Linked DNA regions of Homo sapiens. The protein of the gene in region 1 interacts with the protein of each later gene in a biochemical or structural test. Each region holds a gene or a part of one and is shown on either strand. Other genes may lie near its edges. The genes, in order: ITIH2 and FAM20C.

What was found.
Region 2: of the proteins of ITIH2 (region 1) and FAM20C, one has a biochemical effect on the other in vitro, tested with the Homo sapiens proteins (one large-scale study listed by IntAct).

Annotation. Positions count from the first base shown.
Region 1 is NC_000010.11:7,730,499-7,734,315, reverse strand, and holds part of ITIH2 (inter-alpha-trypsin inhibitor heavy chain H2 precursor), read right to left. Parts: intron 2,506-3,817; coding exon 2,320-2,505; intron 1,979-2,319; coding exon 1,839-1,978; intron 1-1,838. UniProt on the Homo sapiens protein: May act as a carrier of hyaluronan in serum or as a binding protein between hyaluronan and other matrix protein, including those on cell surfaces in tissues to regulate the localization, synthesis and degradation of hyaluronan which are essential to cells undergoing biological processes.
Region 2 is NC_000007.14:198,811-202,627, forward strand, and holds part of FAM20C (extracellular serine/threonine protein kinase FAM20C precursor), read left to right. Parts: exon of another isoform or gene 1-1,873; intron 1,874-3,817. UniProt on the Homo sapiens protein: Golgi serine/threonine protein kinase that phosphorylates secretory pathway proteins within Ser-x-Glu/pSer motifs and plays a key role in biomineralization of bones and teeth.

The DNA.
Region 1 (3,817 bases):
ACACACGGTCCCCCATATACACGGCCTTCCCCACTATCAACATCCATCCCACATCAGAGTGGTGCATTTGTTACAATGGAAGAAGCTGACACATCATTATCACGCAGAGTCCACAGTTAACGTGGCTGACCCTTGGTGTTGTACATTCTATGGGTTTGGTTAAATGCATAATGACAGGTGTCCACCATTGGAGTATCATATAGGGTATTTTCACTGCCATAAAAATGCTCTGTGCTCCACCTACTCACGTATCTCCCACTCCCCAACCTTTAGCAACTGCTGATCTTTTTATAGGAATTGTTTTAAAATCAATATTTAACTTCTGCAACAATTTGCTATATACCTGTAAATACATCTAGTGTGCTTCTGTCAGAGAGGGAGCTATTTCTCGTTTACTTCACAGTCATAGTTTACAGCCTTGCGTATTTCTTCTAACCTTATTGACATCAGGGATTTTCTCTATGAGTTCAGTCATACAACTGCATTTCATTTTCCCAGCCTCATTTAGACCCTGTTCCACCTTCCTGAGAATCCTGTCTTATAGACAGAATGAGGCTTGGGAATGGGAACTTTTATCAAACACCTCTGTGTAATTTTGATGCAGGTGGTCAACCATCCATTGCTCTGGGGATATAGTTTTCATGTTGGAGAGTTGAGATGCAGCTCAGCTGAGAAGTCAGAGGGGCCATGGATGAGCATGGGGGAGCCCTTCCTTAGGGAACATCATAATCACATAATCATTAAATTCTCTTTGGACAAGAAGCCGTTTTCAAGAGTAAATGCAAATAAATTACTGATACATGAAGCAACCAGAGGGGACATAGATGAGCATAGGGGAGCCCTTCCTTAGGGAACACCATAATCGTTAATAATCATCAATTTCTCTTTGGACAAGAAGCCATTTTCAAGAGTAAATGCAGGGCTGGGTGCAGTGGCTCATGCCTGTAATCCCAGCACATTAGGAAGCCGAGGCAGGCGGGTCATGAGGTCAGGAGATCGAGACAGTAAATGCAAATACATGCCTGATACATGAAGCAACATGGATGAATCTCACCAACATCATATTGAGTGAAAGAAGCCAGGAACAGAGGAATACAGATTGCATGATTATGTGAAATTTAGGATCAGGCAAAACTGATGATCACAGACATTGAAAGAGTGGTTACAGTGGAGGAGGGGGGTGGGTGTTGAGGGAGAACAAGGGAACCTACATCTGGATCTGGGTGGTGATTACACGGATGATAGATATAAAAATCCATTGAATGGTGCACTTAAAATTAATGCATTTTGGCCGGGTGCGGTGGCTCATGCCTGTAATCCCAGTACTTTGGGAGGCCCACTCGGGTGGATCACGAGGTCAGGAGACCGAGACCATCCTGGCTAACATGGTGAAACCCCGTCTCTACTAAAATACAAAAAAATTAGCTGGGCGTGGTGGTGGGCACCAGTAATCCCAGCTACTCAGGAGGCTGAGGCAGGAGAATGGTGTGAACCCGGGAGGCGGAGCTTGCAGTGAGCTGAGATGGCGTCACTGCACTCCAGCCTGGGAGACAGAGCGAGACTCTGCCTCAAAAAAAATAAAAATAAATAAATAAAATAAAAATTAAAAAATTAATGCATTTTGCATACTTTACTGTATGTTATACCTCAATAAAGAAGAAAAAGAGTGAACCCAGCTTTCTCTGAAGTGTTCAGAACTAGTGGAAGGTAATAATCCAAGCCTGTGCTAATGTGCTGTCTTTCTTGCTTCCAAACTCTTTTTGTGTATGACTTCATATATTCACGGTGGACATTTCAGTTTTGCAGATCTCGTGGTGTGGGTACTCTTCTCTTCTTACCGTTCAGCTAGCAGTTGGTTGATGGTTAGATAGGCCCACAGTTTCCTGGTGAAATCGGGATCTGCATGCTTGTCTTTCGATAGAAAATCCTGCAAGTCGTCCATCTGGGCCAGGGTCTCCAAGACTAACTGCGTGTTAGCCTAGATGATGGAAGGTTCAGTTGAGAGACACTGGGTAACAGAATTATAGTTCATTGATTCACATTTTTAGTACCTGCTGCGAATGAATGGGAATAAAAAAGAAATGGAAGGCAAAGCCTACGGAGGAAGGAAATGCATTCCTGTGCTTGGGATTGGGCTTGGGTGAAAAGGTCAGGATTTATGGAATAGCTGGGAAGATGGCAGAGATATTCTCATGCCTTCTCCATCACTGATTGCTTCTGTTCTACACCCATGATTCCAGGCAGGCAGAGCTGACATTCAAGAGGGACTGTATCTAGGGGGTCAGTTAGTAGATAGAATAAATGGATAAGTGGAAGTACCGAAGTCGCCGTGATAACGCTCTCTATTTGATCCAATTTAGCAGGGTCAAATTTTCCTGCCACCACAATCTCTGAGCCTCCAAAGTAGTTATGGAAATTGTTTTGAGTGACGTCCGTGACTGATGTATGGGGATAGTTGAACTGAACATTCCGGAGCAATGGAGTGGAGACCTGGTTGTAGAATTTCTACAATTCACAGAGAGAGAGAGAGAAATTATGTTCCTACTGCTTTGTAGATCTAAAGCATTTTATTTTATTTATTTATTTATTTTGAGACGATGTCTCACTCTGTTGCCCAGGCTGGAGTGCAGTGGTGGGATCTCGTCTCACTGCAATCTCCGGCTCCTGGGTTCAAGCAATTATCCCACCTCAGCCCCACAAGTAGCTGGGATTACGGGCACCCGCCACCAAGCCCGGCTAATTTTTGTATTTTTAGTAGAGACGGGTTTTCACCATCTTGGCCAGGCTGGTCTTGAACTTCTGTCTTGTGATCTGCCTGCCTGGGCCTCCCAAAGTGCTGGGATTACAGGGATTACGCCCAGCTGATCTAAAACATTTTACTCTGAGATTCTTCAAAGAATCAGCAGATACCTCTTAATTTATTCACACAGGACGTTTGGGACAAGGGAAAATGCTCGTAATTATCAGATTAAAAACAGAGAGAAGACAAAGACTTGTTGAGAACATTACCTTTGGTTTAAGAGCCTGGCATTTTTTTCCCTTTCTGTTACGGTCAGCGTGAAAAACTCTTGGACAAACTTATGATAAAAGTCAGCAGGAGGTCGGGCATGGTGGCTTGACCTGTAATCCCAGCACTTTGGGAGGCCAAGGCAGGCGGATCACCTGAGTTCAGGAGTTTGAGACCAGCCTCGCCAACATGGTAAACCCTGTCTCTTCTAAAAATACAAAAATTAGCCGGGCCTGGTGGCACATGCCTGTAATCCTGGCTACTCAGGAGACTGAGGTGCGAGAATCGCCTGAACCCAGGAGGCGGAGGTTGCAGTGAGCCGAGATCGCAGCACTGCACTCCTGAACCACTGCACCACACCATTGCACTGCCATTGAACGTACTTGTCACCCAGCCTGGGTGACAAAGCAAGACTCTGTCTCAAAAAATAATAGTAATAATTAAATTTTTACAAAAGTCAGCTGGGTTAATAGTCCCCAAATCAGAATCTTATCTCTTACTTGTTCCCAAATTTAAATACGATGCCTGGTACTGACAAAGAGCAGGGAAAAACATGTTCTTTCCCTACATCATTTTCTCATCTATTTAATCAAAACAAACAAGTAGTTTGTGTCTTTTCAATATATGTATTTTAATTAAAAAAATTATCTGTTGAACAGATGGATCTCACTATGTTGCCCAAGCTGGCCTTAAACCTCTGGGCTCGAGTGATCCTCCCACCTTGGCCTCCAAAGAGCTGGGATTACAGGCATGAGCCACCACACTCAGCCTGTATCTTAATACTTAAGAAAATTTACACTGTGAAAAATT
Region 2 (3,817 bases), on another chromosome or scaffold:
GCAGCAGCATTTCAAGGTGGGCTGATCCTTCTCATCTGGGGAAGCCAGGGCTGGGCAGGTGCCTGAGCCTCATGAGGGTCTCAGTCTAGATGCTGGGCCCTATTCTCCCTGCTGCCTTGGGCTTGGAGATGCTCACAGGTGAGTTCTCATTTGTGAAGAGGTCTGTCTTCCTGAGGAAGCAGGGGACCCTCACCTGTGAACCAAGTGTGCCATGGGAGCTGCTCCATGTCCAGGTCCAGGTCTCCTGGTCTGCAGGGAACGGCACAAGAGGGCTGGCCTAGGCCAGGAGGATGTGATCTGTCCTAGAAGGGGGCTGACCTGCTTGCTGACCCCGCTTGCTGCTGCCTGGCTGGCCTGACTCAGCCACGGCTGTTCCGAGGGCCCTTCTGAGTACGAACTTCCAGTTGGAGGATCTGGGTGAAGACCCAGCTGCTTGAGATAGCAGCCTCTGGCTAGGCCCTTGGCGTGGCCAAGCCAATCAGGCAGGTTTAGAGCCTGGTGCCCCTAGACAGGTCCTGCAACCAAGAACAGGGGTAGCCTTCAAAGGCCAGCCCTGCCTTCCAACCACCGCTCCACAGCGAGGGAAACCAAGGCTCTTAGGGCAGGAGGCTTGTCCGAGATTAGCACCTGCGTGCTCCAGGCTCTGAGTTCTGTCCCCTCAGCTGTCCGGCCCCTGGGTGCTCACTTTAATCTCAAGTCATTCATCTTACTATTAAACGTGAGCCCAGAAATATTGTTGTAATGGAGAACGATGCCTGCGAGTCTCCAAAGCCTTCCCTCGGAACGGTTCCATTAAATCTCTCCTGCTCAGAACCACCCAATCCAATTCATGGAGCGCCACGTGGTCTACAGCACAGCTGGTTAGGGCCAGCGGAGGTTTATTTATAGCTGGGCTCCTGGCTGCCTGGTAACCGGCCATTGCCACCTTTAAAGAGTCTTGGGATATTATCTACCTCTATTCAGCTTGAAATCGGGCATGCAGTGCCTTGGGCTGGGGCTGGCGATAATTAAATTTCTATCATGCACAATTATGGATGCAAAGAATGAATGACATCCCACTGGCATGTGAGGATTCGGGCAGCTTCTGGACTGAAATACAGACTTCATAATTGCTCCATCCAGATTGGGACAAAGACTGTGGTTGGGAGAACATGCCTGAACAAAGAAAAATGACTCTGCAGGACCAAAGTTCTTGACACTGATTGATCTGCCAAAAGGGGAAGAATGAGTCCAGCTAGAATCCAGGACTAACCAGCGGGTGAGCTTCAAGGAACAAAGGGCTTCCGCTGGGTCAGCCCACGAGAGGGAGCTGCCTGCAGGTACCTGGGAGGGCACAGCCACCGTGTCTGTTCCTTGGGAGCAGGGCTCCTTGGAAGGCAGCGCCAGCTCCAGAAAGGCCACTGTTCCCCCTCCCACCCACCCCAGGTGGCAACTGCCCCTGCAGGTCACGGTCCCAGGGCCTCGCTCGGCCGGCCTAGAGAGAGAAAAGGGAAGATGCCCAATTAGCTGGACGCCCATGGCCCCAGGGCTGGGGGACCTTGGGTTATCCTGAAAGAAGGACAATGACCACCTGCAAAGGACGATTTCAAGTGGAGCCTGGAGGAGGCGGCAAATAGCTCAGTCCGCACTCAACTCCCTTCCCAGCCGTCTGGTGGAAGGTGAGGAGCAAAAGCTCATGCTGCTGAGGCCTGGGGCCACCCAGGCACCGGCCTCCCCGTGCTGAGCAGAGACAGCAGCCCCCTAGCTGCAGGAGTGTGCCCCGATGCGCACCTGCCGACTTTCCTTCTGATGCAGACATGGTCCCCACTGGGGCAAGGCTGCAGTTTTCTTTTAAAAAACAGATCTTTCAAAATAAAAGGGGCCTTGAAGAAAATCGTGGAATAAATAACAGTCTGGGGTGGAGGCGGTTCTGGCGAAAGTGTCCTGAGGGTGGTGTGTGATGGACGGGACTTTGGGCAGTGCTGATGGGGCCTTGCCTGTCACTTGAGGCCTCCAGGAGAGTCGAGGACTGGCAGATCCAGGTCCAGAGCAGGTGCAGGCTCCCAGCTCTTCCAGCCCCTTACCTCGCAGTAGGTTCCCACAGTTCTAGCCTCCTTGATGCCAGCCCCAGGGTGCCCACTGCTGGCCAACTATGTCCTTTTCCTCAAAACCAGGTCCCTCGGTGCCCAGGGTGAATGGGTATATGAGCCTGGGTGTGGGCACCCGGGGTCTGGGACACCGAGCAGACCTCTCTGGCTTGGAGATGTGTGCGGTGGGAAGAACAGGGTGACCTGAGCTCTCCCGGTGTCACATTCTCCACATCTGAGCCCTCTTTGGGTGAGGCCCTACTTCCAGCACACACAGCTGTCCCCATTCGTCTTCAGGAATAACTGACCCTTGAGGCCAGACAGTGGCTGTGAAGAGCAGGGGGACCGCCTGACCGTGACCCCCAAGGACAGACGCTGGCCCTCTTGACGGACGAGATGACCAGGGCCAAAGGCGGCAACATGGGGGCCCACGCTGACGGCAGCATCTCACACCTGGATGTGTTTCTGTGGTCCACAGGTCTGTAGGAGGTGGAACTGGTTAATTTAAAGTCAGGTTGGGGTTGTTGTTAGAAAGGGTTCCTGCTCCCACGAGAAACCAAGGATGAGTGGTGGCTGCACCCAGTCTCCATCCCCATGAGCACCCTGCGGGGTGTTGGGACCCCCAGGCCCGGGCCACACACCTCTCTCTTTCAGGGCCGTCTCTCCCTGTCTCTCCAGACCTGCTCTGGGTTCTTCCTTCTAGAGCTTCCCAGTGGGTTGCCGGAGCTGTCTGGGGTTATGTGGCTTGCCTAAGGCCACACCGATTGGGGCCTGGCACCAAAGTCCATTAGTATTTCTGTGACAGCAGCCATCTTTCTATGTAAGACGCTTATTTCATAAGAAATGCCAGCATCTCTTGGAGTCCTTCTGAGGAGGCAACTGCATACGAACATCGCCTCTGTCTCGTGCTGTGACCCGGGGAGAGACTGTGGGCAAAACCCAGTGGCGTCCGAGGGTCTGTGTGGCCCCGAACTCTTAGTGCTGACAGCAACATGAAATAATGAAGGCACAGGGCACTCTGTTCGTGCATGTTAACTTGTGTAACTAGTGCACGTTAATCACATTAACTAGCCATGTTAACTAGTGACGTAGATTAATAATGATGAATCAATAGGAATGAGTCCTGTATACTGACGGATATCCGGGCGATAGGATTCTTCAGCGAGGCCGGGGAAGAAGCAGACTGTCACCTTTGGTCTAAAGTTGGTGGGTTAAGTGGTGGGAGGTGCTCAGGGCAGGTGGCAGGAAGGGGAGAGCGTTCCAGATGGGGAGAACCTATTTGAAAGGCAGTGGACATCTTCCCATGTGCATAGAGAGGACGGGTGGCCACTGGGCGAGATTGCACTGGGGAATGGGGCTTGTGGACATCTTCCCGTGTGCATAGAGAGGACAGGTGGCTGCTGGGTGGGATTGTACTGGGGAATGGGGGGGCCCTATGGATATCTTCCAGTGTGCATAGAGAGAATGGGTGACTGCTGGGTGAGATTGCACTGGGGAATGGGGCCCGTGGACATCTTCCTGTGTGCATAGAGAGGACGGGTGACTGCTGGGTGGGATTGTACTGGGGAATGGGGGGGCGCTATGGATATCTTCCCATGTGCATAGAGAGAATGGGTGGCTGCTGGGTGAGATTGCACTGGGGAATGGGGCTTGTGGACATCTTCCCGTGTGCATAGAGAGGACGGGTAGCTGCTGGGTGGGATTGTACTGGGGAATGGGGGGGCCCTATGGATATCTTCCAGTGTGCATAG